2 separate regions of the Homo sapiens genome follow, and region 2 is linked to region 1. The links come from fine-mapping of genetic effects on gene expression. Tissue or cell type: whole blood. Region 1 holds a variant in brackets; the other region holds the start of a gene. All regions are shown on one strand. Distances are between the middles of the regions. Region 1 overlaps RALA (RAS like proto-oncogene A). Region 2 holds the start of RALA (RAS like proto-oncogene A).

The links.
Region 2: RALA starts here. The variant in region 1 is fine-mapped to the expression of RALA in whole blood (INTERVAL, PIP 0.92).

The regions. Positions count from the first base shown.
Region 1 is chr7:39,651,972-39,668,421 of GRCh38, forward strand. The region is part of intron 1 of RALA (RAS like proto-oncogene A); the gene reads left to right. Among named protein-coding and RNA genes, the nearest start is that of RALA, 37 kb to the left of the region's middle. The variant T/A (reference allele first, on the strand shown) is at 8,066.
Region 2 is chr7:39,614,824-39,631,273 of GRCh38, forward strand. It overlaps RALA (RAS like proto-oncogene A), which reads left to right and starts at 8,749. Exons shown (of 5, transcript NM_005402.4): 1 at 8,749-9,002. LOC107986785 (a long non-coding RNA gene) reads right to left here and starts at 8,654. Exons shown (of 2, transcript XR_001745175.2): 1 at 7,610-8,654; 2 at 3,238-6,791. RefSeq lists an enhancer at 8,625-9,472 and silencers at 8,799-9,308, 9,903-9,952.

The DNA of each region.
Region 1 (16,450 bases):
TGCTGCTAGAGCAAAGTACCACAGACTGGGTAATTAGTAAAGAATAGAAATTTCCTTCTCATATTCTGGAGGCTGGGAGGTTTAAGATCAAAGTATCAGCAGATTCAGTCTCTGGTTCCAAGATGGTCCCTTATTGCTGCATCCTCTAGGGAGGAGGAATGTGGTGTCCTCCTATGGCAGCAGAGCAAGAGAGGGTGAAAGGGCAAGGTGAAAAGTGATGAACCTGTCCTTTTATAAGGGCACCAATCCCACCCATGAGGGTGGCCTCTTATGGTTTACTCACTTCTTCAAGGTCCCACATCTTAATACTGTGGCAATGGCAGTTAAATTTCAACATGAGTTGGGACAAACATTCAAACTGTAATAGCCATTCCCCACCCCATATCAATTCTTACTAATAATTCACATACAAATTCACCAAAAGTAATAATTGTAGGTATAAGTTTTATGATATTTGCATTAGTTTTTAAACAGGACCATAGTAGGGCTTCTAGGGATGAAGGTCCGTTGGTTTTATTGGGTTCTCAAGGATGACTAGGATATTCAAATCCTCAGTTAATTTGCAAAAATTGTTCAGTTGCTGTAATCATAGGAGTAACATAAACCTGTTGGAGTGGATATAAGAATAAAGCAATTCTAATATTCCTCAGACTCCTAAACTTCATAATACCTGTATAAGGTAAGAAGCAAGAAAAGTTTTACAGAGGTTTGCTACTTTCTAGAGTGATTTTAGTAAATGCCTATCAGAGGATTTGAATTTCTTTGTAGTCAAATCTTGATGTAGTTGAATTAATTAATTTTATTATTATTATTATTATTTGAGATGGTCTGTTGCCCAGGCTGGAGTGCAGTGGTGTGATCTTGACTCACTGCCACGTCTGCCTCCCAGGTGCGAGCAATTCTCCCACCTCAGCTTCTCAAGTAGCTGGGATTACAGGCATGCACCACCATACATGGCTAATTTTTGTATTTTTAGTAGAGATGTGGTTTTGCCATGTTAGCCAGGCTTGTCTCAAACTATTATTATTGTTAGCCAGGCTGGTCTCAAACTATTATTATTATTATTATTATTTTTTGAGACGGAGTCTCACTCTGTTGCCCAGGCTGGAGTGCAGTGGTGCGATCTCGGCTCACTGCAACCTCCACCTCCCAGGTTAAAGCGATTCTCCTGCCTCAGCCTCCTGAGTAGCTGGGATTACAGGCATGCGCCACCATGCCTGGCTAATTTTTGTATTTTTAGTAGAGATGGGGTTTCACCATGTTGGTCAGGCTGGTCTCAAACTCCTGACCTTATCATCCGCCTGCATCAGCCTCCCAAAGTGCTGAGATTACAGGCATGAGCCACCACGCCCGGCCTATTATTATTGTTTTTTGAGATAGGGTCTTGCTCTGTCACCCAGGCTGAAGTACAGTGGCACAGTCATGTCTCACTGCAGCTTTGACTACCTGGCTTAAGCCATTCTCCTACCTCAGCCTTCTGAGAACTGAGACCACAGATGTGTTCCACCATGCCTGGCCAATTTTTAAAACATTTTTAGTAGAGATGAGACCTTGCTATGTTGCCCAGGCTGGTCTCAAACTCCTGAGCTCCTATAATCCTCCTACCTAGTTGTAATAATTTATTTAGAATAATTTATTTAGAATTTATTTATTTAGAATAATTATATGAAGTGTCACCTCAGCTCAGCAGAATTCTCCCTCACAATTCCATTTTATTTTTTAGGACCTTTTTGAACATTAGTCTTGTAGTAGCTTATAGCTTCTGAGACCAGCATTTAATTTGTTTGTAGTACATTGTACTTCCAGGTGATAAAACAGCATTAAGCAGAGTACCTATTCCTCCTGGGTGGATGTCTCAGAATTTTGCCAATACTGATGAACTGTTCTCCAAAATCATTTTCTAGAGTTTAGGGTTTTTTTCCATCTGAATATGTACTAGTTATTTTCATGTACTGTGCTAGATGCTGAGATTACAGAACTGAGAAAGATAGCTCTCAGCTCCCAATAATTAATTTGATGAGTAGCACTGATAGAAGTTATATCCAGAATACTAGGGAACAATGAAACAAGCCCATTGAAGGCTGGAGAGCAATTGGAAGGCAGAGGACACTGCACAGGGGGTTCTATTTGAACAACTTTCTTTACCTTTATGTACACAGTCACATCACCCTATCAGTAAAAATGTTTTAATTGAAAACATTTTTATTGAATTGTATGAATCAAGAACATAATTGCTTCTTTCACCATTGAATAATATGTTATCAAATATGCATTAAATTGGTCGTCTTAGAAATGGCTAAAATATGTATTTATAGAATAAGAAGGTATTTGAATTTAATCAGCTCAGTCTCCAATCCTCTTTCTTTATCTGTTTGAATTCTTTGATGGGGCTTACAGACAGTTTATTCCAGTTTTTACAGTAATAAGTAATTGGAAAGATCTTGCTAGTGAGCCAAATCTGCCTCTTTTTGTCTTCTCCTCAGTAATTTTAGTTTTAAATTGTAAAAATTATCTCCCAGTCTGTGACTTATCCTTTCATTTTCTTAACCTTCAAAGACTGGAAGTTTTTTATTTTGATGCAGTCCAACTTATCAATTTCATAGATTTTGCATTTGACATTGTATCTAGGAAATCATCGAATGCCTAACCCAAGGTCACATGCCTAACTCTATGCTTTCTTCTAGAACTTTTGTGGCTTTAGGTTTTACATTTAGAAACAATCCATTTTGAGTTAATTTTTTTGTATATGGTGTATATGTGAATCTAAATTTTTGTTTGTTTGTTTGTTTGTTTGTTTGAGAGAGGATCTTGCTCTGTCACCAAGGCTGGAGTGCAGTGGTGTGATCATGGCTCACTGCAGACTCGCTTTCCCAGGCCCAAGCAGTTCTCCCACCTCAACCTCCCAAGCAGCTGGGGCTATAGGCGTGTGCCACACTATACCCAGCTAATTTAGTTTTTGTAGAGACTGTATCTCACTATGTTGCCCAGGCTGGTCTTGAACTCCTGAGCTCAAGCAATCCTCCTGCTTTGGCCTCCCAAAATGCTGGGATTATAGTCATGAGCCACCACGCCCAGCCTCTAAATTCTTTTTTTGCAATTGTATTTTTGCATCTAATTGTTCTAGCATCATTGTTTAAAAAGTGATTCTTTCTTTACTGAATTGCCTTTTGCACCTTTGTCAGCAGATGCTGAAAACTACAAACCACTCAAATGTCCATCAACAGGTGAATGAATAAACAAATTGTAAGATATCCATACCATGGAATACTACTCAGCAATAAAAGGGAATGAGCTATAGATACAAGCAACAGGGATAAATGTCAAAATTATGCTTACTGAAAGAAGCCAGATAAAAGAGTACATGTTGCATAATTCCTTTTATGTGAAACTGAAGAAAGTACTAACTAATCTATATTTACAGAAAGCAGATCAGTGTATGGAGGGGAGATGGAGGGAAAGGAAAGGGAGGGATTACAGTTGAACAGGCTTAAATATGTGCAGTTTGTCGTATGTTGTACCTCAATAAAGCTGCTCCAAATATAATTCTAAAATTTATATAGAATAACATAGTGGCTAGATAAGCTTTTGATAACCAAGGTTTTTCTTTTCCCATTTCTTAATTTTTTTTCATACTGTAACTCCAGTTTATTGTTCTTCTTAAAAAGGTATGTAGATCTGAATATAGCATTTGGAAAATAATTGATTGTTGTAAACTCACTTCAAGTATATCTTCTGTTTCTTTGAGTTATGTCATGCCAGTCCCTACAGAGTCTGTTAACCTTACTTGGTATCATTGTTTCACTTTGCTTATTATAATTTAACCCAAACTTCCCCAAATTTTCCACAATTATATTATTAATAGAAATTACAGAATACATCAGGATCAAGGCATATAAGGATTAAGGGGAGAGGAGTAAAAAAAGAAATGCGCAGGGGCAGAATTAAGGAATTTAGATTTTCACCTATGAGCAATGTGGAGTCTCTGAAGAATTTTAAGTAAGCTGAGTTAAACTAATTTCACTTTTTATTGTGATCAGCTGAACTTACATAAAAAGGCAGGCAGTATTTATCTAAGGGGATTTGCATCAGTCCCTTTGGTGTTTTAGTGAGTATATAGTTTTTTTGTAGTGGCAGAGTCAAAACCCCTATTCAGATATCTTAAATTTATTCCCAAGCCTTGTACATTATAGTTGCATCCTGTCAAGTGAACTGTAACTAGCAATTCAAAATTCAGAGTTACTTGAATGTTCTTGTTTCTGAGTATTTCTTGGGTTTATGAGATTGACAACTCTATTTAGGCCAGAGTATTTAGTCTACTGGAATTAAGCAAATACAGGTCCCATCTATTCATGTTTGCTATTTCTCAATTTAAAATCCTATAGCATGTAAGAGCATTAGCATTTTATTTGTCTTTCTTTCAATCCTTTAGAGTTAAGACTCACTAATTTGGGATTAGTTATGACTCTATGAGGCTACTACTGATTTTTGATAGGAACAAGAACCCAGGAAAGGAAAAAAAGGTAATTTATGAGCTGCAGCCAATTATCTGGCAACCAGAATGCCTTGTTGTTAAGAGTCTATTGTAACAAGTTTCTTTGTCTTCATACAGCACCTGTTACTGTGCAACAAGACCGTGTTTTTGAACACCTGGCATAACATGAAACTGTTAGGTTATATTGTGGCTAATCCTGAAGGAAGTTAGTTGAACTCTGGCTCATTTATTTAAACTCAGTCCTCCAGCATGACAGATTGGTGAATGTGGAAGTGGGTACCAGTTACTAAGTAAAACAAACATGCTCAGCCCATCTCTTGATCTGGACCCTGGATTTTGGGATAAAGTGAAGGGATGAGGGTAAGGGATGTTCACTTCAGAAGTCATTGGGGAGTTTCCAGTGATGTCACATCTGACTACCCTGGCATGGATATATAGAATCTCTTGGATCATACCATCCTGGCTCTGTTCCAGTTTTGTTTGTTTGTTTGTTTTTGTGTTTTTTTGTTTTGTTTTGTTTTTGAGACGGAGTCTTGCTCGGTCACCCAGGCTGGAGTGCAGTGGTGTGATCTCGGCTCACTACAACCTCCACCTCCCGGGTTTAAGCGATTCTCCCGTTCAGTCTCCCGGGTAGCTGGGATTACAGGCACCTGCCATCATGCTCAGGTAGTTTTTGTATTTTTGTAGTGACGGGGTTTCACCACGTTGGCCAGGCTGGTCTTGAACTGCTGACCTCAGGTGATCTGCCCACCTCGGCCTCCCAAGGTGCTGGGATTACAGGTATGAGCCACCACGCCCAGCCCAGTTCATTTTAACTCCACCACAACTCTCTGGAACTTCATGCCAGTGATGTAACTCTTATCGAACCCTTATTTCCTCATATAAAAAATGAAGGGTTTGGATTATTTTAAGGCTTCCTTCTGTGATTCTTCAATTTCATTATGTTTACTTTTAAAAATTGTTCAATGAAACTTCTAGGTAAACATAAAAGCAACTTGTTAAAAATTGTAAAATGGAAAGAAATAGACTAGTATACTGAAGGATATTGTATTGGAGACGGTCCCAGGAAAGCCCTACTTTCTGTGGGGTCTGGACCTTCTAAACATTATCTTTTTGGTCATTAACCTGTCCTCTATATTAATTGAGGCCTGTAAGCCTTAAGTGATAATGAAATGCAGCCAGACATGGTGGCTGACACCTGTAATCCCAGCACTTTGAAAGGCTGGGGCAGGAGGATTGCTTGAGCCCCGGAGTTAAAGATCAGCCTGGGCAACACAGCAAGAGCCTGTCTCCACAAAAAAAGAAAAAAAATGTTAATGAAATGCTACAATTCTGCTTCCAACCACTAGTTTGAATGTAGGTGCATGTGTTTAGTATTTCAATTTTAAATATGATTGTCTTTTAATGATAGTTTTAAAAGACTGGAGGTTTACTTGTGCATGGGCCTGATGCCCAGCCTGTGTGATACTAGTTCATTCCTGATGAGCCATGACTGTACCCACTAAGCCCCTTAAAGAGAGGGTACTCTTCCTCCTACTTCTCTTTCTTTGAGTTAAGAGTATTAATAGCACATGCATTCTAGTCCGTATTCTTGATGTTAAGACATGTTGGAAATGACTGAGGAGCGTTGTCCCTTTCTTGAGCACACAGACAGTTGCTAAATGCAGGGCTTGTCTTAAATTAATGTTCTCTGGTGTCTTCTATTACCATCTCACTCCATCATTAACCCCAGTGGTCTTCATCCTAGACATAACAGTGGTTTGCACTGTGGCATCCATGACTTTGCTCCTTTTTCTCCTTCAGCTGCCTCTCCAACCCTCTCACCTCCCCCTACAAAGTCTGGGTATATTTTTGCCCATTTCTTGCCTAGTGTTATCAATACTTCGAACAACTAGTATAAAGAACTTAGTGAAGAGCACTGGTGCAAAGTAGTATGTTCAGTCTGTTGGATATTTTTATCCCCTAGCCACTTTCTATTAGATAAACCATATGAAACTGCTGTTTTTGTATGTATATATATATATAATGTTTGCAGTTTTATATGGTTTCACTTTATAAATATACACAGTGATGATTTTTAACCAGAGATATGAACTACAGTTACCTAGGCAGTTTTTTACAAAATATATATATACACACACACTGTCTGCATCCTTGACCAGTGAATTAGGATCTTCATGGATGGTTCCAGAGTAAATGCATTTTTTAAAAACCTGATTCTGAGTCATACTCCTGGTTAAAAACACCTGTAAGCGAATCTTCCCTCTAGGCTATTTTTAGTTTTTTTATTTTAATTTTTTTTAGGGATGGAGTCTTACCACGTTGCCCAGGCTGGCCTCAAAATCCTGGGATCAAGCAATCCTCCCACCCTAGCCTCCTGAGTAGCTGGAACTACAGGCGTGCGCCACCGAGCCTGCCTCAAGCAGACTGCATACAGATGCATATGTTTTTGGTGTAATCAGTTGTCTGATATGAACTGAAACTTTTAAGTCTATGACTTCATAAATTGCTATTATTTAAAATTTTAAGATATGGACCGGGTGTGATGTCTCATACCTGTAATTCCTGCGCTTTGGGAGGCCGAGGCAGGCAGATCACTTGAGCCCAGGAGTTCCAGACCAGCCTGGGGCAAAATGGCAGAACCCCTCTAGAAAAAAACACAGCGAAAAAATTAGTCAGGTATGGTGGTGCTGCTGTGGTGGGGATGAAATGGTCTGAGGCAGGAGGATTGCTTGACCCCAGGAGGTCAAGGCTGCAGTGAGCTGAGATTGCATTGCACCACTACCCCTCAGCCTGGGCAAGTGAGAGAGACTCTGTCTCAAAAATAAAAAATAAATATGATCAAATCTTAAATTTAGATTTTTCAGTACTCTTAGGAAGAAAAATATAAGTGCTACAAGATGTTTTATGATTTTCAGGGAATTGTCAAGTCTTTTTTTTTTCCCCTAGTTTGTAACTTCACGTTATGTTTTGTATAACTTCAACTTAAGATTTTTTACTTTTCAGATACACTTTTATCTTTCATGAAAAGGAGTTAACAGTAGTGAGCAGGCTGTAGTTCGTTATTAACTTAATTATGACTCACAATGCAGCTTACCCTACATGATTCGTAATTTTATCGTAGCCAAGAGAAAATGGAGTTTCTTTGAACAGCATCTGTCTCCCTTCACTGCTGGTAATTTGTGTGTTATTATTAATCACTGTTTTTGGAATCTCTGGGTAAATAGGCACTAAATAAGCCCAAAAATATGAGCAAAAGTTGTCTGTTAATTCATTGGCCACTGCAGAAAGGAGTACTAAAGCCCAGAAAAGAGTTCTGAGCTTCCTTCTATCTCTCACTAGCGTGTTCTCTCTAATTTGCATTCCTTAAAAATGAGTTGCACTTGCTTTAGTGGCATGTATATTTTTTAAAAATACAGATAAGTTTAGTGTGGCTCCTGTATAAAAATGACTCTCAAAAAATAGTAATAAAAGGAACATGCTCTCCAAGGGAGCTATGTGCAGCTCTTGGCCCTTGGATGCCTGTGGCTGGGAGTCTGAATCTGTCTGCCCATGGCCCCCTCTTTAAAAAAA[T/A]TTTTTTTTTAATTAAAAACAATTTAAGGCCAGGCACAGTGGCTCACGACTGTAATCCCAGCACTTTGGGAGGCCCAGGCAGGCAGATCACAAGGTCAGGAGTTCAAGACCAGCCTGGCCAATATGGTGAAACCCCACCTCTACTTAAAAAGTACAAAAATTAGCCGGGTGTGGTGGTGTGCACCTGTAGTCCCAGCTAGTTGGGAGGCTGAGGCAAGAGAATTGCTTGAACCCAGGAGGCAGAGGTTGCAGTGAGCCAAGATCACACCACTGAACTCCAGCTGGGGCAACAGAGACTCCATCTCAAAAAAAAAAAAAAATTGTAAAATGACTCCCACTTGTGATCCATTTCTTTAGAAATACATAACACTTATAAGAGGCAGTCTCTAGTGCTTAACTCAGAAGAATTCTTATCAAGAAGGAATATTGAATTTTATCCAATGCTTATTTCTTTTCTGTCTCTCTTTTTTTAATGAATTTGCCTTCTCTGCATAACTTTTTCTTTTCACTTGCATTGATTATATTGATTTTCTTATTGGGCCCATTCATGTGATTGTATTTTTATGCTTACTATTAATCTAATATTGCATTTTTGGAATACAGTTGACCCTTGAACAACACAGGTTTGAACCACAATAGTTTACTTACGCAGATTTTTTCAATAAATATATTGGAAATTTTTTTACAGATTTACAACAATTTGAAAAAACTTGCAGGTGAGCTGTATAACCTAGAAATATTGAAAACAAGATAGGTATATCATGAATGCATTAAATATATGCAGATACTAGTTTATTATTTACTATCAGGTACACAAATCTTATAAAAAGTTAAAATTTATCAAAATACATGCATACTATATTAGTCTGTTTTCATGCTGCTGACATGAAAGACATACCCAAGAGTGAGTAATTTATAAAGAAAAAGAGGTTTAATGGACTCAAACTTTTCCTGTGGCTGGAGAGACCTCACAATCATGGCAGAAGGTGAAAGGCATGTCTTACATGGTGGCAGACAAGAGAATGAGAGAGCCGAGCTAAAAGGGAAACTCCTTATAAAACAATCAGATCTCATGAGACTTATTCACTACCAAAAGAATAGTATGGGGGAAACTGCCCCCATGATTCAGTTATCTCCCAGCGGGTCCCTACCACAATACCTGGGAATCATGGGAGCTACAATTCAAGTTGAGATTTGGGTGGGTACACAACCAAACCATGTCATTCTGCCCCTGGCCCCTCCCAAATCTCATGTCCTCACATTTCAAAACCAATCATGCCTTCCCAACAGTCCCTCAAAGTCTTAACTCATTTCAGCATTAACTCAAAAGTCCACAGTTCAGTCACATCTAGACAAGGCAAGTCCCTTCAGCCTGTGAGTCTGTAAAATCAAAAGCAAGTTAGTTACTTCCTGGATACAATGAGGGTGCAGGCATTGGGTAAATGCACCCATTCCAAATGGGAGAAATTGGCCAAAACAAAGGGGCCAAAGGCCCTATGCAAGTCCAAAATCCAGCAGGGTGGTCAAATCCAAAATGATCTCCTTTGACTCCATGTCTCACATCCAGGTCACTCTGATGCAAAAGGTGGGTTCCCATGGTCTTGGGCAGCTCTGCTTCTGTGGCTTTGCCAGGTACAGCCTCCCTTCTGGCTGCTTTCATGAACTGATGTTGAGTGTCTGTGGCTTTTCCAGACTCATGGTGCAAGCTGTCAGTGGATTTACCATTCTAGGGTCTGGAGGACAGTGGCCCTCTTCTCACAGCTCCACTAGACAGTGTCCCAGTGGGGACTTTGTTGGGGGGCTTCAACCCCACATTTCCCTTCTGCACTGCCTTAGCAGAAGTTCTCCATGAGGGCCCTGCCCCTGCCTGGACATCCAGGCGTTTCTATACATCCTCTGAAATTTAGGCAGAGGTTCCCAAACCTCAGTTCTTGACTTCTGTGCACTCACAGGCTCAACAACACGTGGAAGCAGCTGCCAAGGCTTGGGGCTTGCACCTTCTGAAACCACAACCCGACCTGTACCCTGGCCCCTTTTAGTCATAGCTGGAGTGGCTGGGAGGTAGGGCACCAAGTCCCTAGGCTACACACAGCATGGGTTGGGGGGCCCTTAGCCCAGCTTTTGAAACCATTTTTTCCTCCTATGCCTCAGGCCTGTGATGGGAGAGGCTGCCACAAAGGTCTCTGACATACCCTGGAGACATTTTCCCCATTGTCTTGGTGATTAACATTGGGCTCCGGAGACATTTTCCCCCGTTGTCTTGGTGATTAACATTTGGCTCCGCAGATTTCTGCAGACGGCTTGAATTACTCCTCAGAAAATTGGCTTTTTTTTCCTATTGCATTGTCAGGCTGCAAATTTGTCAAAGTTCTATGCTGTTTCCCTTTTAAAACTGAATGCTTTTAACAGCACCAAAGTCACCTTTTCAGTGCTTTGCTGCTTAGAAATTTCTTCCACCAGATGCCCTAAATCATCGCCCTCAAGTTTAGAGTTCCACAGATCTCTAGTTCAGGGGCAAAATTCTCAGTCTCTTTGCTAAAACATAGCAAGAGTCACCTTTACTCCAATTCCCAACAAGTTCCTCATCTCCCATCTGAGACCACCTCAGCCTGGATTTCATTGTCTATATATCATTATCAGCATTTGAGTCCAAGCCATTCAACAAGTCTGTAGGAAGTTCCAGACTTTCCCACATTTTCCTGTCTTCTTTGGAGCCCTCCAGACTGTTCCAATCTCTGCCCATTACCCAGTTCCAAAGTCGCTTCCACATTTTTGGGTATCTTTACGACAGCACCCCACTCTACCAGTACCAGTTTCCTGTATTGGTCTGTTTTCATGCTGCTGATAAAGACACATCCAAGACTGGGTAATTTATAAAGAAAAAGAGGTCTAACAGACTCACAGTTTCCTGTGGCTGGAAAGGCCTCACAATCATGGCAGAAGGTGAAAGGCACATCTTACATGGTGGCAGATGAGAGAGTGAGAGAGCCAAGCTAAGTGAGACTTATTCACTACCATAAGAATAGTGTGGGGGAAACTGCCCCCATGATTCAGTTGTCTCCCACTGAGTCCCTCCCACAACATGTAGGAATCATGGGAGCTACAATTCAAGATGAGATTGGGTGGGGACACAACCAAATCATATCACATACAAACACAACTATATGTGGTGCCATTTGCAGTCAAGAGAAATGTAAACCAATGTAAAGATTCAGTATTAAATTATAACTGCATAAAATTAAGTGTAGTGCATATGATACTACTGTAATAATTTTATAACTACCTCCTGTTGCTATTGTTGAGCTCAAATGTTGCAAATACCTACTTCAAATGCCATGTGACACTAATTATCTCTGTGTGAGCAGTTCATCTCTCCAGTAAATGTAGTGTTTGTACAACACTGTAAACTTTAAATAACACTGTGGGACCCATAAGAAATGTTACTAGTGATGCTGGAAGTGCTCCCAAGAAGCAGAGAAAAGTCAACATTACAAGAAACAAGTTTAATTGCCTGATATGTACCATAGATTGAGGTCTTCAGCTGTGATTGCCCATCATTTCAAGATGAATGAATCCAGAGTAAGGGACATTGTAAAAAAAAAAAAAAGAAAAAATATATGAAGCCTTCACTGCAGCTACAGCAGCAGGCACAAAAGCTTTGCATTTGTTGCAAAATACATTTTTATCAAATTGAAAATTCAGCTTTTATGAGGGTGCAGGGTTGCTGTAAGAAAGGCATACCTTTCCAATCTGTCCCTGGGTCTAACGAAAAAAAGCCATAGCTGTAGACTCCAATGTGATTCCAGAAAAAGCAGTGTCATTATATGACAACTTAAAGCAAAAGGAAGGTGAAGGATCTAAAGCTGGAGAATTTAATGCCAGCAAGGGATGGTTTGATAATTTTAGAAAGAGGTTTGGCTTTTTAAATGTCAAGATAACATGAGAAGCAGCTTCTGCCAACCAAGAGGCAGCAGGTGAATTCCCAGAAGCCATTAAGAAAAACATTGAGGAGAAAGGATATCTGCTTGAACAGATTTTTAATGCAGACAAAATTGCCCTTCTGGAAAAAATTTTAAAAGCCACAAGGAACTTCTGTTGGTAGGGAAGAAAAGCAAGCACCAGGATTTAAGGCAGGAAGGAATAGGCTAACTACTATTTTGTGCAAGTGCAGTCGGGTTTATGATCAGGGCTGCCCTTATCTGTAAAGCTGCTAATCCCCAAGTCTTGAAAGGAAGAGATAAACACCAGCTGCCAGTCTTTAGGTTGTTGTACAACAAGAAGGCATGGACAACAAGAACCCTTTTTCTGGATTGCTTTCATCAATGCTTTGTCCCTGAAGTCAGAAAGTACCTTGCCAGTAAAGGATTGGTTTTTAAAGTTCTTTTGATATTGGATAATGCCCCTGGCCACCCCAAACCCTATGAGGTCGAAACTGAAGGCACTGAAGTAGTCTACTTGCCACCAAACACTACGTCTCTGAATTCAGCTTCTAGATTGGGGGTTGTAAGGACCTGGAAGGCTCATTACACACAGCACTCTGTGGAAAGGATGTCAGTACTATGGAGGACCCCAATAGAGGAACATCATGAAAGCCTAGAAGGCTCACACCATTGAAGATACCATCATTGTTATAGAAAAAGCTGTGAAAGCCATTAAGCCCCAAACAATAAATTCCTGCTGGAGAAAACTGTGTCCGAATGTTGTGTATGACTTCACAAGATTTATGACATAGCCAGTCAAGGAAATCTTGAAAGAGTTGGTGGACGTGCCAAAAAAAAAAAATAGTGGGAGGGGGAACAAAAGTCTGCTTGATAGAGATCAATGCTTCTGAACTGGTGCCAGGTGATGAGAAAGGAGTCCTAGAAGAAGCAAACCCATAAAACAAAGTGATGTTAGATAATCTAGCAGAAGGGTTCTTATTATTCAAGACTGCTTTTGACTTCGTTTACAACATAGACTCTTCCGTGATACAAGCACTAAAACTAAAGCAAATGGTGGAAGAAGGATTGGTACCACATAGAAACATTTTTAGAAAAATGAAAAAGCAAAAAAGTCTAATTACAATGCATTTCTTTAGCTACAATGAGTGTGCCTGCTTTTTCTGCCTCCTTTCCACCTCCTCCACCTCTTTTTCCTCTGCTACCCCTGAGACAGCAGGACCAATCCTTCCTCTTCCTCCTCCTCTTCAGCCTACTCAACATGAAAATGATGAGAATGAAGACCTTTATGATGATCCACTTTCACTTAATGACTAGTAAGTGTATTTTTCCTTCCTTAAAATTTTCTTAACATTATCTTTTCTCTAGCTTACTTTATTGTCAGAATACAGTATATAATACATATAACATATGTGTTAATCAACTATTATGTTATTGGTAAGGCTTCCAGTCAAATAAGCATTTGTAGTTAAGTTTTGGGGGAGTCAAAAGTTGGATTTTCGACTGCACACAGTGGGGTTGGGGGAGTTGGTTCAGTACCCCAATCCCTGTGTTATCCAAGAGTCGACTGTATAACACACTATACAGTAATGGATTATTTGTGTGCTGAGAGGTAAATTTCAGGTGTTGGTATTTTATGGAATTTCTCTGTTCATAAATGAGACTGCAATGTAGTTTTTTTTTTTTTTGGTGTGATTATCGCTATTTTATACCACTGACCTTATAAAATGATTTGGGTAGCTTTTCTGTGCCACCCGTGAGAATTATCTTTTTATGTTTAAGAGAAATTGCCTCTAACCTTTGTGTAAGGTCATTCTTACTAGTTTCTTCCATAGTGGTGATAAAGTTTAGTTGGCAAACACTTAGGATGTGAATTTTTTTTTTTTAATCCTGGCTTCACATCAATAGTGTGTCCTAGGGCACATTTTTAAAGCTTGATATGGCTCAATTTTCTCACCTATAAAATGTGAATGATAGGTCTAAAGTTGTTTTGAGGGTTTCATGAGATAATTAAGTACGCAGTTGAAAAAGTGTCTGACACAGAATAAGCACTCAATAAATAGGAAGATATTTATTTTTCCCCAAGGTTTTTGTCCTATCCAGTTATTTGGATTTTTTAATCTCCCTTTTTTTTCTTTCTTTTTCCTGCTTTCCTTGGAATTTTTCTCTTAGCTTGCTGAACTTTGTGACTGGTTGACTACTTTGTTTAAGATAGTCCTAGAAGAGAGTAAAAATTCAAAAAAAATGTATACTGGGTGTCAGGGCCACAAAGGTGACATTTTCTGACTTTACTCTCTAAGTTATATATAATGAATATATGTTACTTTTATAGTCATGAAAAAACACTGAGGATAGGAGGAGCTCAAGTTCCACCTGTGCCTGTGTGTGTTGGAAGGTGATGAACTCAAATGGTAGGATTAGGCGTATTCAACAGCATTCAAGATCACCTGTGGAAGTGAGTCTGTGCTAAACAGATTTGTGATGGAGAATGTAACTGATAATAGTTGTCATTAAACATAGTTTCAGGTAATATATTTTATATTCAGTGCCAAAGGGATTCTTTAAATTTAAAAAGTGACATTCGCAATGCCTTACTTATACAGGAAGGATCTTAACAGTACATACTAAGAGGTTAACCTGACTGGATGGATGTGGGGTGCCACATATACAAGTCAGAATTTAAGAGATTACTACTTTATATTTTCTTTCTTTCTTCTTAGCTGCTCGCTGTTACTCCTTAAAAAGAATTGGCTATTCACCCGCAGTTCCACAAAGTAAGAATTCAGCAGGTGGTCTGTAAAAGAGCTGTAGTAAAGGTTAATTGGCACAAAGGGAATCTTTGTTGCTATAGAGTCAGTCTTTAGCTTTACATTCCTGGTTTGTAAAAATAATGTCAATGCTTAATTTTCAAGGCTTTGATCAATACATCTTCTTATAAATTTTGAGTTTTAGCCAGCTTGTCCCAATGCTGAAGAAAAAAAACATTTTTGGGGAAAAAAATCACTTCAATCCTTCTCTGTAGCAGTTCAGACCATTAGCTTTCCTTTCTCTTCTCTCCTATTTCTGCCTCACTCCCACTCTTTTTGATGCCAGGTCTTGCCCCATCTTAAACTTTTGTGTTTATTTATGATTCTTTGGTCATCCATATCAGAAAACTGATTTACTCTTGAAGTTGGTATTGAAAAATAGTATTCTTTAAAACTCAGGCTAATTTTAATTGAATGTCTTGGAATTTTTTTTATACTTTCTAAATTTGAAATATTTTGGGGTTCCAAATCAAGTCAACTCAGGATTTTAACTCAAGTTCATGGTAATGAAAGCCAGTAGACTAAATATATGTGTCTACCTCCTCTTATCCCCAACTCCCTGTGAAAAGACAGGAAAAAGAATTTACAGACAGAAATTTGTAATTCTGTAATAGCACTGAGAATGAGAACAGATGGAGTGACCATCAGCAAAGCAGAGACTTTCTAGGTTGTAGAAGACAGAAGACAGATGGTGCTGATTGATGAAGCAGGGCGAAGGAAGGGCTACCCAGCATTCCCGTGAGGGAGGCCTGTAGGGGGAATCTCTTCTTCCCCACTGAGTCCTGAAGAGACTTTAAGCAATGAGTCAATAGGAACAGAGGGCAGAAGAGATGATAGGACTTGCTATTAATTAAAGGAATATAAGTGAAAAGCTAGCTTGATATCCTGCCCACACAACCAGCCCATACAAAGATTGCAGCAACATCTGTTCCATGCTAATTTTGGAAATCTATTTCGAAAAACATTTCTTTTTGAACTCACAGCCTGGGAGGACTAGGAGTTCTAATGAACATGTTAACAACCCAGGGTAAACTCTATTCTTTTGATATTTGGAGAAGGAGCCAATCTGTCAACCTGTTTCTTGCCCATGAACCTAAAGTGAAACTTTAAATACCCAGTGAATTTAAAGTGTCTTCCTGATCTGTTGTGAGAAGCAGATCTACCCAACAACGGAGGAAACTTACTATAGTGGACTGGGAGAGCAAGATAAAAGAAAGTCTAGCCAATGGTGACATGAAATTACACAAAATGTGATACAAGATATTATTGCCAGATGAGTAAAGGATAAGAACTAGCAATTCACAAAATAAATACTACATAGAAAAAGTATCCACCCTCTTTAAGAAATCAGAGATATAATTAGAAATAACAATGAGATATTTTTCACAGTATACAAGTAGCAGGTTTTTTAAAAGAATACACAATGCCAGTAGGGATACTAGCAATACTAGCATAGTTACTGTGCTAAAGTACAGCACTTTAAGAAAGCATTTGGACAATGTGCATGATAAACCTTAAACAGTCAATTTATTAATTTTCCATTTCTTAGAGTCTATCTCATGGAAAGTACTTTAAATGTAGAAATAGGTGGTCATCCATTATAATTTTGAAGAATTCAAAACAGCTCTAATGTCTTATAT
Region 2 (16,450 bases), 37 kb before region 1:
TAAATGAGGCCATGTACTGTGGCTCACACCTGTAATCCCATCACTTTAGGAGGCCAAGGTGGGAGGATCACTTGAGGTCAGGAGTTCGAGATCAGCCTGGCCAACATGATGACACCCCATCTCCACTAAAAATATGAAAATTACCTGGGCATGGTGGCGTGCGCCTGTGATCCCAGCTACTCAGGAGGCTGAGGCAGGAGAATTGTTTGAACCCAGGAGGCAGAGGTTGCAGTGAGCCCAGATCGCACCACTGCACTCCAGCCTGGGTGACAGAGTGAGACTCCATCTCAAAAACAAAAACAAAACAGCGTTGTGCTAAGTTGCCTAGGCTGGTCTCAAACTCCTGGCCTCAAGCAATCCTCCCACCTCAGCCTCCCAAAGTGCTGGGATTATAGGCAAGAGCTGCCACACTGGTCTTTCATTCCCTTTTTAAATTTGAAGGGATATTTTTCTCATCATCCCTTAGCTAGACTGAGCTGGTTTTATGTCATCTGCAAGCAAAAGAGTCTCAACTAAGAGGGTATGATATCATTGGGTTACATACAAATGTTTATGTTTCCCTTTCCTTTCAGATATATGGTTTGATTATCCACTTTGAATAGGCATGACATGTGGCTTGCTTTGTCAATGAATTATGAGTGCAAGTATGTCACTTTAACAGCCAGTGCAAGATTTGCCATGTTCTATGCACCTGGCAGTCACCTGCAGTGACTGTGAAAACACATGTCACTTGGTGCCTCCAACAGGTAGGTTCTTAGGTAACAGTGAAAAGGAGAGAATCCTAGCAAACTGTACATGTAGCATGAGCAAGCAATAAGCTTTTGTGATGGTAAGCCACTGAGATTTTGAAGTTTTCTGCTACTGCAATATAACCTAGCTTATCTTGATTAACACACAGGGCACTTTCCTTCATAATATTTTCCCATGATTCATCTTAAAAGAATCAATATTGAGCCAATCAATATGGGGGTGATAACAGTACATGAAACAGAGTTCTTGCCCTCCTAGTAAGAAAGACAAACAAGCCATTCCAGATCATCCTAAGATTAATGGAAGTATTAAAGTAGTTTAGGCAGAGAAGTTGTATTTGCCTCCCAGATCATGATGGCTGCACAGTGAAGACTGCGTTTAGAGCAGGAAAAGTCTGAACCCATTGAATCTATACTACAATAATAGTAAGGAGGTAATAATGGCTTGGATTAGGGACGTGGTGATAGAAGCAGAGTGAAATGAATGATTTTGAGATATAATGAGGAGGAAGATTTAGCATATCCTGGTAAATGAGTGGATGTGTAAGAAGTAGAGAGAAAATTCAAAGCAAATATTTAGATTTCTGGCTTTGATCATTTGGCTATCATCAGTCAGTTTGGACATGCCTAGTTCGAGCTGGGTACCTACAAAACACTCAAAGAGATATCAGATAGGGAATTAAATATATAGGTTTCAAGCTTAGGAGTGAGCTCACAGCTAGAAGTCACCAATATACAGAAAGTAAAGCCATGGGTGTATAAAACCATGGGTGTAGATGAGATCATCCAAAAAGAATGTGGAGACTAGACTACATTGATAAGAGCCTTACAATTCCTTGGAGTGGCAATATTTAAGCAAAGACAGAGCATGCAAAGGACAATGAAACAGTTAGGCATGGTATCACAGAAGCCAAGAGAAAAGATTGTTTCAGAAAGGAAAAAATGGTCAATAGCTTCAAATACTATTGAAACATTAACAACTAAGATATATCTCATAATAGGAATGATGTTGGTAAGTTTATCAAGAGTAGTTTCACAGCAGTATTGGGGGTAAAAGTCTAATATATGGTTGAGGGTAACTTGGAGGTGAGGAATTGGTGATAAGCAAGCATAGACAATTTTCTCAAAAATTCTCCTTAGGGGAAAGGATAATTTGAGCAGAAGCTAGAAGGAGGATATGCATGAAGAAGACACTTTAACAAATGAGAATGCTAATGGCAAGAAACCAGTAAAGAGTGAGAGGCTGAAGACACAACAGAAAGAGAATAATTGATGGACCAAGGTCCCAACTAGACAGGAGTAGCCAAGACCTAGAATACGCATTGAATGATGGCCTCTATTGTAAAAAGAATGGAGGAAGGAATGAGTATAGTTCAAAACTTGTTAATTTGATTATAAGTAGTAACTAACACACACTCATGTTATTATTAATTGAATTCTTATAATAAAGTATATAAGTGTAGAAATATAGAGTAATATAAATATCCTGTTTACTATTACTATTTTCTCTGACTCTCAAGACTCAAACTACCTAGATTCATGGGACCTAGCCAGCCATTTCTTGTTTTGGTAAGTGCCTTATACAATGTCTGAAATACTGCAAATATTTCACAAGTGGTAATTTAACCCCATTTCCTTGGCTGACTCTGGATTCAAATAGTTAGGAGCTTCATCACTGATGATATCTGATTCTTTTTCTAGCTTCTCCATTAGTCTGATCTACTCTACCTGCCATATACCTCCTGAGGTTATAAATATCTTCTGTTCTGGTCTATCACTACTTCTACCTTTTTCCAGGATAAATCAATTCATTTATAATACAATAATTGGTTTTTTTTTTTTTTTTTTTTTTTTTTTTTTTTTTTTTTTTTTTTTTTGAGATGGAGTCTCGCTTTGTTGCCCAGGCTGGAGAGCAGTGGCGCGATCACGGCTCACTGCGAGCTCCGCCTCCCGGGTTCACGCCATTCTCCTGCCTCAGCCTCCCAAAGTGCTGGGATTACAGGAGCCACTAGAAATTGATGCTGGGTATAGGGTAATCCCTCAAAAATAATATAACTTATAAAACTGAATAAAAACAAAAATGGATGTCAATTTTCATAGTGACAGGGACTGACCAAAGGCATATTTTCACAGACTTTGTCCAAATGTATCAAAGAGCATTTTAAAGTATTAAATTGGGTTCTTCCCTTACTAGTAATGAAAATGCATAATTTTATTTATAATTAACAAGTGTAAAAAGTTGTTCAAGATTGAAAAACTGAAAAACTTGCAGAGAAATAAGGGAATAAAATAGAGCCACGTATATCTATTACCTCGTTAAGGGGAAATATTTCATCTGGAAGATCAATCCAAACAATAACTTCTAAAAACTAAATGCTTAATTACATACCAATAAGAATCAATTTTGGAGCTAGTTCAGTGATAGGAAGACAATGTAAAATACCTTATCTTATATGCTAAATTAGATAATATAAAAATACTACACAGCTATACATCCACAATTTTATTTAATAAGTATATCATTAACATTTTCTTAATATATCAGAAAAGATGAAAAGAAACAATATAGAAATATTTTCAGCTATACAAATTCAGGGCTTCCATGACAAATAAAGGCTAAAGATTCCACCTTTATTTACATACATTTTTTTCTTCATAGAAAAAGTCGATATCCAATAAAATGTTACCTAATGTAACCCCAGGCAAAGTGAATGCCATGACTGGACAATGGAGACTTATTCGTTGAACCGTTACACCTAATTACCATGTGCCAGATACTGTTCTAAGCACTCTATGGATGTTAGCTCATTTAATCTTAAAACCATGTCATAGAATATGGTAAAAAATAAAAATGAAAAAACTAAAATTGCTACTTTTCTCCCCACCTCTTCATCCTACCCCATCATATATTGTCAGTAAATGGACAGCAGGAGTCCAATGAAAATATATTTAACTTGGACTCAAAAGATTTGAGTTAGTTTCTGGCTCTATTTAGGGTTCTGTGTGACCTTGAACAAGTTATTGAAACCAGAACTTCCCAAACCTGACTGATCATTGGAATTCAAGGGAGAGTGTTATTACAGTTACAGATGCCTTGGACTTCACCCAGTATTTTCTAATCCTAAATCTAAATATTTTCTGTTTAGAGTGGGACTTGAGAATCTGAATTGCCTTTGAAACTACACAGGTGATTGTGATAAGCAGTCACATTTGGGAACCACTGATAGAGTAGTCTTATCCTCTAATCCCTTGACAGAAAAGTATAGAAATATGTGGTCCACAAGGGTCGTCGGCATGAAGGGGAGAATTATGAAGACCCAAACTCTCATAACCCCACTCTTTACACATTCTCATTAAAGCTGTGTTTAGATATTCTAGATGACCCTTTTGTTGTGGGTCATCCGGACTATCTAAGCCCAACAAACATATCCAGAGGCATATCATACAGGTGACTGTCATCTGCATCACCTACTTAAGCCTATCTCTCCAAGGCATGACGTCATTAAAAATGAAGTGGGAAATTGAGGCAATGGTTCCACCAATTTAAAGTACAAACCCAAATAAACTATCTTCACATGAATGTGCTGAAAATGTGTACGACCTCCTAAAAAAGTTTCTGAGGTGATTGTATCAGCTTTTTTCCCGCTAATTCAACTAAACATCACAATATACATTTTACTCATCCCCAAAATATTTTCTGAGTACTTATTTTGGGCACCATGAAGGATACAAAAATGAATAAAACAATGTACCTGTCTTCAAGCTGGTAAAGATACAGCCATAAACATAAGAATTGTAGTTTTCAGTTTTAAAAACGTTAAGTTTGGCTGAATTTTGGAGATGCTGCAGGCAATCAATAATAAGCCAGAAATGTCCATATTATAAATACATTCTGGACTGTCATATCAAGCTGGTGACCCTGGTATAAAGTACTAAAAGAAACAATATATTTTGAGAATCTCAAAATGTGTGTTTGGGTATGTTACTTGACAACTGTAGTGAATTTTTAAGTCTTTAAAAACTAGTCTCAGAGCGCTAGTCTTTCAGCACTCTGAGCCTATTTCTTTCAACAATTTGTATCTCACAAAATTGTGAAAACAAAATGAAATAGTACAAATGTCAAGGTGTCACGGAATTTTTTTTCTTTTTTGAGACAGGGTTTCATTTTGTTGCCCAGGCTGCAGTACAGTGTAATGATCACAGGCACTGTAGCCTCGACCTCCTGGGTTCAAGGGATCCACCTCAGCCTACTGAGTAACTGGGACCACAGGTGAATGCCACTATGCCTGCCTAGTGTTGTTTTTTTTTAATTTTTTTTTTTAATAGAGATGAGGGCTCCCTATGCTGTCCAAGCTAGTCTTTAACTCCTGTATTCAAGCGATCCACATGCCTCGGCCTCCCAAAATGCTGGGATTACAGGTGTGAGCCACCACACCAAGTCATGGTGTCATGAATCTTATAGATAATGCTCATAACTCTAATAAATAATAAAACATGATTTTGAGTTGATTTTTCACCAGTGGTGACAAATGGCTATTAACCAATTACTTTCTTATCTGGCCCTAAAACACAAAGAAGCCTTGTTTGTCATTGCTGTTCCCAGATGTATAGTTAATATACATTATATGATAATTTTATAAATTGGTATATAAGCAAGTGTATAAAAATAAACATGCACATTATGTAGTCATGAATACATTTAAATGTTTACATTATGCATACACCTCTCTAAAGGAAATACTGAAGTCACCAATTTAATGGAAAAAATTCTCATCTACTTTAGGGATAGACATTGGACAAAACTTCACAAGTCTATATATTTCATTACATGTTTGTGATTAAACAGTGATGAGAATGACAGAGTTTCACAGGAATGTTCAACTTAATTGTGTCAAACATGTAACTGTCTATAAATTCTATAGGGACTGCATTATTCTATGGGGACATGAATAATGTTTTTAATACAAAATTCCAGTTAACTGACTGGAGTAGACTAATCATTAATTCTAAAACATGCTTCTGGCAAATCCCTATCTACCCTGTATTTTCCCCCAAAGCATATATTAGCTATGAGTAGCATGAATATAAAAGTTGTGGTTACCAAAACTTCTTTTTACTTCCCTCTTTCATTAACTATATTTGTTAATACACAAGGTTTGATCATAAATAGTAAAGTCAATTCACAAGTTAAGAAAAAAGATCTAAGTGTATTTCAAAACAGGATCCTTCATGTTCTTTGAGTAATCCAGGCAGCAAAGTCAGGAATGCTCATGGGTGCTACTGGATATTAGTGCTAATTACTAATAATATGTACTTACAATTATGCCCTTTCATCCAAGTACCTCAAAGAGCTTTCATAGCATTAATTTGTTATTTCCTATAATATCTTTGAGAGGCGGCTGATAGAAAGTTATTATTATCTCTATTTTACAGTCAGAGAAACTAGGGCATAGAGAGGTTAAGTAACATTGCTAGGGTCATACGGTGAACAACTGACAAAAAAGGGACTCAAGCTAATTATTCTCATTTCCTGTTCAGTATATTATCCATTATATGGTTGTTCAATACACCTAAATGCTTTTTTATCCTAGACAAATTGAGAATACTGTATTTAAATAATCTAAGACGTAAGTGAACGCGTTTCTCTTTTTTTGTGTGTTCAAAAATGCTGCTCTACAGGGATATAGAGTTAAAAACTAATAATTAGTCTTTGGTTTGCAGCTGTAGCTATTATTTATAGGGCTTTTACTATTTGTGGTTTTCTGAAGCTCTGCTCAAAATGAAGTATTCTATTTCTCACTGCTTTATGCTAGGTTAGCATAGCTGTGAGCCACCAAAAAGCAGCTGAGACAGGCTGACTAATGAATTTGAGGTTGTCTTTCATTGCGTTCCTATTGCTGACTCTTCTTGAAGTCATCCTCCTTCTAGCTCTCCATTCAGCAGATATTTGTGCAACCCACCATCCTCAATCCTCAGCCTATGGCCAGCTTAACTGTTGTCAATGATTAAATTTAAAATATTTTTATTGGAATGGAGCAATTCCTACAGAATAAAAAAGAAAAAAATTAAAATATTAAAATATAAACATAGATAATATTTCATTTTATGAGTTAATGATGCTATACTATTAATAGTTACCACTGTTACATCCAGTTTCTGCTAAACCTGACCTTTAGGGTCCTTAGAAGACCATTAAACATTAGAATATTGGTCTATGGATGGACACATATCACCATATTGGGTTTTTTAATGCAGTATTTCAGTAATTTTCCCAAGTAAAGGCAGGGAGAAAGGAGAAGTGGTTTTGAAACTGTGCTCAATGACGTAAGACTGCAGTCAGCTTGGTTATGGTCATCTAAACCTGTGGTGTTTCCAACTTCAGCCCAGCTCCTCCCTAGAGCTCTAGACCCATATAGCAACCACCATTAGACAGCACCACTCTTACTTCACTCATCAACTCCAAAACTGAACTCATTTTTTTTCTGCAAAAATGTCCCCTCCCAGGACTCATCCTAACTCTTCCTTATCTTATTTAGTAAAATACACCCTTATCCTGCCCCTCCCTCAAAGCAAAACAAGGCATCATCATTGCCTCTTCCATTCTCCTATCTGGCAGCTGCCCCTAGCAACCAATTACCAGTTGATATGGCCTCTTGAATATTTTAGGAATCCATCTCCTTTGGATGCTCACTACCATTCACACAGGGTCCTTAAGTTTTCTCTTACTGGCTTCTGCAATGGCCCCCTTGTGGGCTCTCTGCTTATCCTTCTCTGCCCCCCCACCTCCACCCCCCCAAGTTATCTGTTCTCTACCAACAGAAGAATAGCTTAAATTGTAATCTGTCCACTCATTGCCTCACCAAGGCATAGACGATTCGTGATTTGGCTCCTGTTTTCTTCTCCAGCCTCATCTTCTTCAGCAACCTAAGTTTGAACTTCAAGACCTGTAATTATTACTCATTCTTCTCAACAAATTATTTGTCCCCGTGCTGCATCTCCTTTCTGTTCGGATCCGGATTTGCCATCCCACCCCTATTTTTGTAGTAGAAAATGCCTATTTATCTTTAAAACTCTAACCTACGTTAGTAAAGCTATCCATTCTTCACGCTGTACATCTTGATAAACCATACTTCCAATAGCAATGATTTGCTTTCATGTATGTCTGCCCACTAGACTGGACATTCCTTGAATGGCTCATACCAGGAATATAGTTGGTACTCAATTTGTGGGGAGCAAAGAGAGATAAGCGAATAAATGTCAAGACATAAGAATCTGTAGCTGCTAACTTAAATTTACGGATTTAGTGAAACTACTTCTCACAAGCTACCAAATCACAGTGCCATGGGGCCGCAAGATGATCTCAGTGCCACACCGACACCTGCAGAGTCGCAGGGGGGTCCGACACCCCTCAGAAAGAACTCGCAGACCGTCCGAGAAAGCGAATTCTCCAGGGGATCAGCAGTTAGATGAGGCCCAGGGCAGCCACGAGACCCTCCAGCCAGGGTAGGCGGCTGACCCGCCTCCTGGGATTTGGCCCGTGACAAGCCACGTCGCCAGCTCCGCTCTGAATACCCCCGGCCACGCCACACGAGCGGCCTCAACCCTGAGACGCCCAGGGAACATGAGCTGACCCTCTAGAAGCAAGATGGCGGCCTCCGCTCTCCCCTCCTTCCCCCAAGAACCCCCTCCTGGTCCCCAAAAGAAAGACAAGGACACCGCGGCAACGACGCCGAGATCCGGGAACCTCCGCGAGGCCCGCGGCCACTCCCGAGCCCCCGGGAGATGACTTCACCTCGCGGAGCTCAGAGAGCCGGGGGTGGGGCCGTCGGAAAGACAGCGCGGACAGCCCTCAGCTTGCAGGGGGCGGAGGCCGGGCAGCCTGCGCCCTCCGAGCCACTGTTCTGCGGCCCAGGCCCATGATCACCCTCCTCTCAGCCCACGGACAGGAAGTCGCTCCCCAGCTGCCCCGCCCCGCTCCCCAGCGCCCCGGAAGTGATCTGTGGCGGCTGCTGCAGAGCCGCCAGGAGGAGGGTGGATCTCCCCAGAGCAAAGCGTCGGAGTCCTCCTCCTCCTTCTCCTCCTCCTCCTCCTCCTCCTCCAGCCGCCCAGGCTCCCCCGCCACCCGTCAGACTCCTCCTTCGACCGCTCCCGGCGCGGGGCCTTCCAGGCGACAAGGACCGAGTACCCTCCGGCCGGAGCCACGCAGCCGCGGCTTCCGGAGCCCTCGGGGCGGCGGACTGGCTCGCGGTGCAGGTGAGCGATGCCCGCTCGGGCCGCCCGGGGAGGGACTGGGGCCACCCGGGCGGCGGCGGGGGTGTGTCCGGGCGGCGGCGGGCCGAGGCCCTGACGCGGGTTCGGGCTGCCGAGATTGCACATCCCACGTTCTGCCCGGGGACGAGCTGCGAGATGAGCCCGGCTGGAATCCGGGGCACCGCGTTCGCCGCTGTGGGGCGAGTGAGCCCCCGAGAGTGAGCGGCTGCGGAGAGGTCCCCTGCGCCCGGCAGCCGGTCTCAGTTGGCCTCGTCCGAAGGTCACCCCGCACCTTTCGTCCACGGCGCCCAAGTTCCCGCCCGGGCGGTGCCCGCGACCTGGGGCAACCCGCTGCCGCCGCAGTCCCCGCGCCTCACTCCACCCCTCTCCCCTCCTTCCCTTTCTTTCCACTCCTTGCCTGTGCTAGAGCCGCTGCTTTTTAAGCATCTCCGCCAGGGTTTTTTGTTTGTTTGTTTTGTTTGTTTGTGTTTTTTTTTTTTTTTGCCAGTTAAAGGAATGGTTTTTCAGACTTAAAGTCATTAGACTCTCCGCACTGAACTGAATACCTGGCCTTGGGCGCTTGCACAGCTTTAGCCCATTTTCAGGTAATCTAGCTTCTAATATGAGGAAGAGAATACATTTTGGGAGAGAGGTGTTTCCTCTGTGGTTCGTTTCTGAAAGATTTCCAGAAGTGGAAGATGTGATTGGCATGCTTTAGCCTGGATATATGTGTTTAAGTAGACGGGGGTGACGGCACACAGGGGTGGCAGTGTTGTTTCAGGATTTAGGGAGAATTAGGGAGTTAACTGGCCTGTGCTCGGAAACCTGAATGTCCAGACTTGTAAGAGCTCATCCAAGTGTGGCTGAGGTAGTGTGAGAAGTCCCGTGCCACGCCCTACGTGTCAAGCTGAAAAGCACCTAATTTACAAATTGTGTGGTGTGGGGGGGGAACAACCTTTATAAAACATGTATCATAAGTTAATTCTTTTCCAGAAAGTAAATTGCAACTTTAATCATATTCCAGAAATTGGATAACAGATTTCATTGGTAAACTCTTACAGTATGTTTATTAATGTATTTCAGTGTGTCTTATTAGCTCATGTTTTTCTGTCTCTGGTAATACAATATTATTCTAAACCGACTCCTGTATTAAAATAATACACTATTATTGTGAAGTATTATCTGACAACACCGTTTTTTGACCTTGGATTTCTTTAGGGCAGGAGCCATGTCCTACTTATGACTGTTTCTATGCAGTATGCCTTGAACATAGAAGCTGTTCACACATTTCTGCACTGAATGAATGAGTGTATAGGTTATCTCACAGTCACCATCCAGGAGTTGCTTATTTTTGTTGGGCTAGGCTGTTTGTTTTGTTTTAGGTTCTTGCCACTTACAGACTTTACTTCGTGTTTCATTCTTCAGCAGTCAGAGTTCTTTGCCTTCCAAAACTATCCTCCTCTGAAAGGTTAAAATTATATTAAAATTGTGCTGGGCATTATAACTTGTATTCTAGTGTTAAATGCTTACTACTTGAGCATATTCAGAGTTAGTAGGAAGAGACTGCCTGGTGATACACATCAAGTTTATGTTTGGGGTTGATAACTGTACCCTATCTTAATGAAAAAGAGGAAATTAGGAGTTACCATTGTTTGGATAACGTGGTGCTTCCCAGAATGCTTATAGTGGTTCATTCTTCCCATGAATACACGCAATCCTCTGAAATCCTGATGTGACCTTGGCATGATTTACCAATAGCCTCTTTTACATTTATTTTCCAAGATCCAGATGCTGTTCTCTAGTGTGTTTGCTGAGTGTGCAATAATATGGATCATTTATTTTGAAGCAGTACTTCATTACAACACTTTCTTCACAGGGCTTTCCAAAGGAAGAAAGGGCTAATTATAGAAAAGAATCTTGTCTACCATTTGTGAGGGAATATTTTTGTCTGTAGATGGTTGGATTATTTTCACATTAGGGAGGTTCAAATAAGAAGAAAGTGCTGACGTTTTCTCTCCTCTCCAAGTATGTGGTGGTGGTCCTGCACTGTTTTTCCAAGCTTAGCTTCTACAGAACATAAATACATGTACCAGTGTCAATTCTTGTAGATATGCATATCAGTGTAATATGCATTTGTATTCTTTAGTAGATGAGTGGCAAGGACAATTACTTTTAAAATACTGGAATAAGAGGCTGTGAATGTTAATGAGGAAAAAGACTATGATTTTGAAGGAGACAGTTTATGATTTTCATTGTTTTATAAAATATTTTAACTCTTAGACACTAAGGAGAGGGAAGCCAGCAATTTCTTACCTCAGTGACATTACCACTATACAGAGGTTAGATTTTCCTTCTTTAATTCAGCAACCCTCTTGGTAATAAGAGTTCTCATGTGTTGATTGCCTGCCGAGCACTGTGATAAGAGCTTTACTTAAATTATTTCTAATCTCCACAACACTTCTGCAAGACAGGTAGTTTTCCCATACTTTATTAAGGTAAATTGAAGTTATTTGCCAGAGGCTAGGCACCTAGCTTGTGTTTAGTAGAGCCTAGATTTGAAAGTAACAATTGCTGAGAGCACTGAGTATTATTGCAGTTAATCCTAAATGGCTGTGGAAAAGGCAGTTCTGACTGAGCTGGAACTGGAGCTTCAGGAAGGTGAAGATACTGATTCCTCTCTCTTGGACATCAAGTGTGGCCTGGGGTTGCCAGCAGTCCTGGCCAGGTGGCCTCAAGCAGCAGCCATTCTTCTCTTTTATCTTCAGCGTGCCTACAAATACAGTGTTATCACCGTCCATGTGTGCCATGATGGAAAAATGGTTGGGCATTTTTCCCGTGGGTGTCCCGGTAAAGTATTTGGACTCAATTCTGGTGTTTGATTAGTGCTTTTTAAAGTAACAGAATCGTCCCTATTTGAGAGGAATACCATAAATCTATTTGTAGTGACCTTTCCTTGAAATCACATTTTTTTTAGTTCGTTCTTTCACTAATGGAAATGGGGGAGAAGCTATGGGGGACAGTAGAAAGAATGGTAAAAGAAGCAGAGATGTGCTTGGTCTGTTTTTAACCGTTTGAGACCATTAATCATTTTCTCTGGGTTTAAGATGGAGGCTTAAAAGTGGCAGAAGTCTTGTAAGGGTTTAGCTGCTATTCAGTGCTGGTAGAATTCTCTTCCCTCCTAAGCCTGTGCACTTTTTAAAATGCACTTTTAAATAGGCTTAATTTGAAGAATGTGTCCATCTCTCTCTCTCTCTCTTTTTTTTTTTTAAAAGATGTACCCTTAAGTAAAAAACAGCTGATTGTCTGGCCCCCATAAGTAACAGTTATTCTGTTTTTTCTTTAAGACATCTTTCTTATTACCTTATCGCATTCATAAGGATTTGGGTTGCCGTATAGAAAAAAAGAAATTAAAGTTCTATGGGTTTCTAAAATATGTATGAGTAAATTTTAGGTGAGAATTTGCATCTTTGATTTAATTATACGTGAAGGTGATGACTTAGTTTCTGAAAGTCAAGAGGGTAGTCTTTACAAGCCAAAAAAGGCATGCTTCCATAAAATTATACTATTCTTAAAGGCCTTCACAGCTAGGGTCCTATATTAGATGCAATAGATGTAACACTGACATACATAGTCTCCTTAAAGTCTGGGATCCAATTTTATTGCTGAATTTACTTTTGAAACTAAATGTCAGGGTTTGGTAATGTTATTTTGGACAATAAGACATAGTTAGATTATAAAATGGCGTATACTCCCAGATTTATTGGGAAGGTGGGCAAAGATCCCCCAGTTTCCAAAAGTTATGATTATGGTCATCTAAGCCACAGGATCTGTTTTCTTATGTAGTTGAGAAGCTAACATAGTACTCCATTAAAAGTGGAGGTTGCCACACTGCGTGACCAAACACTGAGTTCAGCTGCCCTGTCTAGATATTCTGGATTACTACAGCAGCCTTCTAGCCTATGGTTGGAACCCATCTGATACTTTTCCCATTCTTGCTTAGAACAATGGTGATATTTCTCTGCTTAAAATCCTCTTGTGGCTCTTTTTTGCCCATTAATAAAATTCAAACTCCATTTATCCTTAATCTCATATACAAAACCTTCAAGATGTGCTCCTTACCTAACTCTCTTTTTTCCCCTTTATCTTTCATATTTTTCATTTTTTTTCTTACCTAACCCTTTAGCCTTATCTCTCTTCTTGGATGATCTTTTGTTCTACCAATACCCAGCTTCTGGAATGCTAGTGTTTGTTTACTCAGTCCTCCATTTCCTCTTCCTGGAATTCTAGCCTCTCTTCCTTCCCCTAATCTAGTATACTCCTACTGGTCCTTCAGAACTCAGTTTAGGTTATAATTCTCCAAAAAATTACAATTAGGTTCTCTCTCTGGATCCCATCCCTCAAAAAACAAAAAACAAAAAACCTTTAAGACTGGGCTGATTGCTTCTCTTATGTGCTGTCATAATATCTGTTACAGCTCTTAACTACACTGGAGAGAGTACTTTCATTAGCCTATTGTAAATTTTGTTGACAGCAGTCCACAGTAACCTCATAACTACACACACACACACACACACACACACACACACACACATTCTTTCTCTCTCTTAAAGGCCTTCTTCGTAGGCCTTTATCAGTCAAGTGCCCAAACTTTCTCAATTCATGGCACCCTTATTATCGCAGTAATTTTTTTCACAGCATCCCTAGGTCAAAAGAAACACCTAACAGTTTAATTTTTTTGTTTTTTGTTTTTTGAGACGGAGTCTCGCTCTTTCACCCGTGCTGGAGTGCAGTGGCGCGATTTCGGCTCACTGCCGCCTCCACCTCCCAGGTTCAAGCAATTCTCCTGCCTCAGCCTCCCGAGTAGCTGGGATTACAGGCACGCGGCACCATGCCTGGCTAATTTTTTGTATTTTTAGTAGAGACGGGGTTTCACCATGCTGGCCAGGCTGGTCTCGAACTCCTGACCTCGTGAGCCATGTGCCTCAGCCTCCCAAAGTGCTGGGATTACAGGCGTCAGCAACCATGCCTGGCCAGTTTAATTTATTAAGTAATTAGGTCTGAACAACTTAATAAGTATGTATCTCCTAACAAGTCAGTAGCTGTGTGAAAAGATAAAATACATAAACTAAAATCAGTAACTTTCATTCTTAACTGCTATCGTGTATGTACCATAGTTTTCTCGACTAATGTCCTGTTTGAACATTTAAGTAATATCTAATATTTTGCAATTACAAATGATGTTACAGTGAAAAACTTTGTGTACATGTATCTTTGTATTGTTGGAGAGATACATCTTCAGGATAAATGCATATGTAGAGTTGTTAGGTACTGTCAAACTCCTCATCCTGTGGGGTTATACTATTTTGCATTCCTACCAGCAGTGTATGAGAGTAGAGTGCTTATTTCCTCACAGCCTCACCAGCAGTGTTTTGTCAGCTTTTGAATTTGTGCTGATCTAATAGGTAAGAAATTGTATCTCAGTGTATTTTCCATTTGTACTTCTATTACAAGTGAATTGAACATGTTTTCATATGTTTAAGGGTCATTTTAATATTTATTTTTATTGTTCATATTATTTGCTCACTTTCTTTTCTTTTCTTTTTCCTTTTTGAGATGGAGTTTCGCTCTGTCGCCCAGGCTGGAGTGCAGTGGCACGATCTCTGCTCACTGCAACCTCTGCCTCCCAGGTTCAAGCGATTCTCCTGCCTCAGCCTCCTGAGTAGCTGGGATTACAGGTGCACGCCACCACGCCTAGCACGTTTTTGTATGTGTGTATGTATTTATTTATTTATTTTGAGATGGGGTCTCACTCTGCCAGGCTGGAGTACAGTGGCGCCATCTCAGCTCACTGCAACCTCTGCCTCCTAGGTTCAAGCGATTTTCCTGCCTCAGCCTCCCGAGTAGCTGGGACTACAGGCGCGTGCCACCACGCCTGGCTAATTTTTTGTACTTTTAGTAGAGATGGGGTTTCACCGTGTTAGCCAGGATGGTCTCGATCTCCTGACCTCGTGATCCACCTGCCTCGGCCTCCAAAAGTGTTGGGATTACAGGCATGAGCCACCGTGCCTGACCCTAATTTTGTATTTTTAGTAGAGATGGGGTTTCACCATGTTGGTCAGGCTGGTCTCAAACTCCTGACCTCGTGATCCGTCCACCTCAGCCTCCCCAAGTGCTAGGATTACAGGCGTGAGCCACCATGCCGAGCTTTCTTTTACTTTTTTTCTTTTTTTTGAGACAGAGTCTTGCTGGACCCTCCAGGCTGGAGTGCAGCGGTGCAATGGTGCGATCACAGCTCACTGCAGCCTCAGCCTCCAAGACTCAAGTGATCTTCCCACCTCAGCCTCCTGAGTAGCTGGAATTATAGGTGCATGCCACCATGCCTTGCTAATTTTTTTTTTTTTTTTTTTTTTGTCAAGATGGGGTTTTAACATGTTGCCCAGACTGGTCTTAAACTCCTGGGCTCAAGCAGTCTGCCCACTTCAGCTTCCCACAGTGCTGGAATTACAGGCATGAGCTATCGTGCCCGACCAATTTGCCCATTTTCTATACGACTTTCAGTCTTTTTTCCTCTCAGCTTTGAAAAGTTCTCTCTATTTAAGAATATTAACCGTTTAATTTTGACATATGTTGCAGATATTTTTGCTAGTCGTCTTTTGGCATTGCTTGTGGTGATTTTTTGCCATGCAAAAGATTGTTTTTATATAGTCAAATATATAAATTTTAAATTTACTGCATCTGAAGTTTTAGTCATATTCAGGAAACTTCTTACCTTCAGGTTATAGAGAAATTCACACATGCTTTCTTCTGGTACTCATATAGTTTCATTTCTCACATTTAGTTCCATTCAGAGTTTATTTCTATGTATGATATAAGGAATGCATCTAATTTTATCCTTTTCCAAGTGGCTATCCAGTTGCCCCAATGACATTTATTTAAAAAAGAAAAAAAAATTCTTGTTCCTTCTATATGCAGTTGGGTATATTTTTTTTCTATTGGATTATCTCACCATTCATGCACCAGTACCACATCATTTTAATCATAGAGGCTTTGTAGTATGTTTTAATGTTTGGTAGGGCTAGTCACCCATTATAGCGCTTCCTCTTCATTGTTTTTCTTGCCTTCTTGTATGAATTTTAGCATCAATTTGTCTAAGTCTATGAAACAATTCATTGCTGGTTTTTTGTTTTTGTTTTTTTTTTTTTTGAGACAGAGTTTCACTGTGTCACCCAGGCTGGAGTGCAGTGGTGCGATCTCAGCTCACTGTACCCTCTGCCTCCCAGGTTCAAGCGATTCTCCTGCCTCAGCCTCCCATGTAGCTGGAACCACAGGCGTGTGCCACCATGCCCAGCTTATTTTTTTATTTTTAGTAGAGACAGGGTTTCGCCATATTGGCCAGGCTGGTCTCAAACTCCTGGCCTCAAGTGATCCACCTGCCTCGGCCTTCCAAAGCA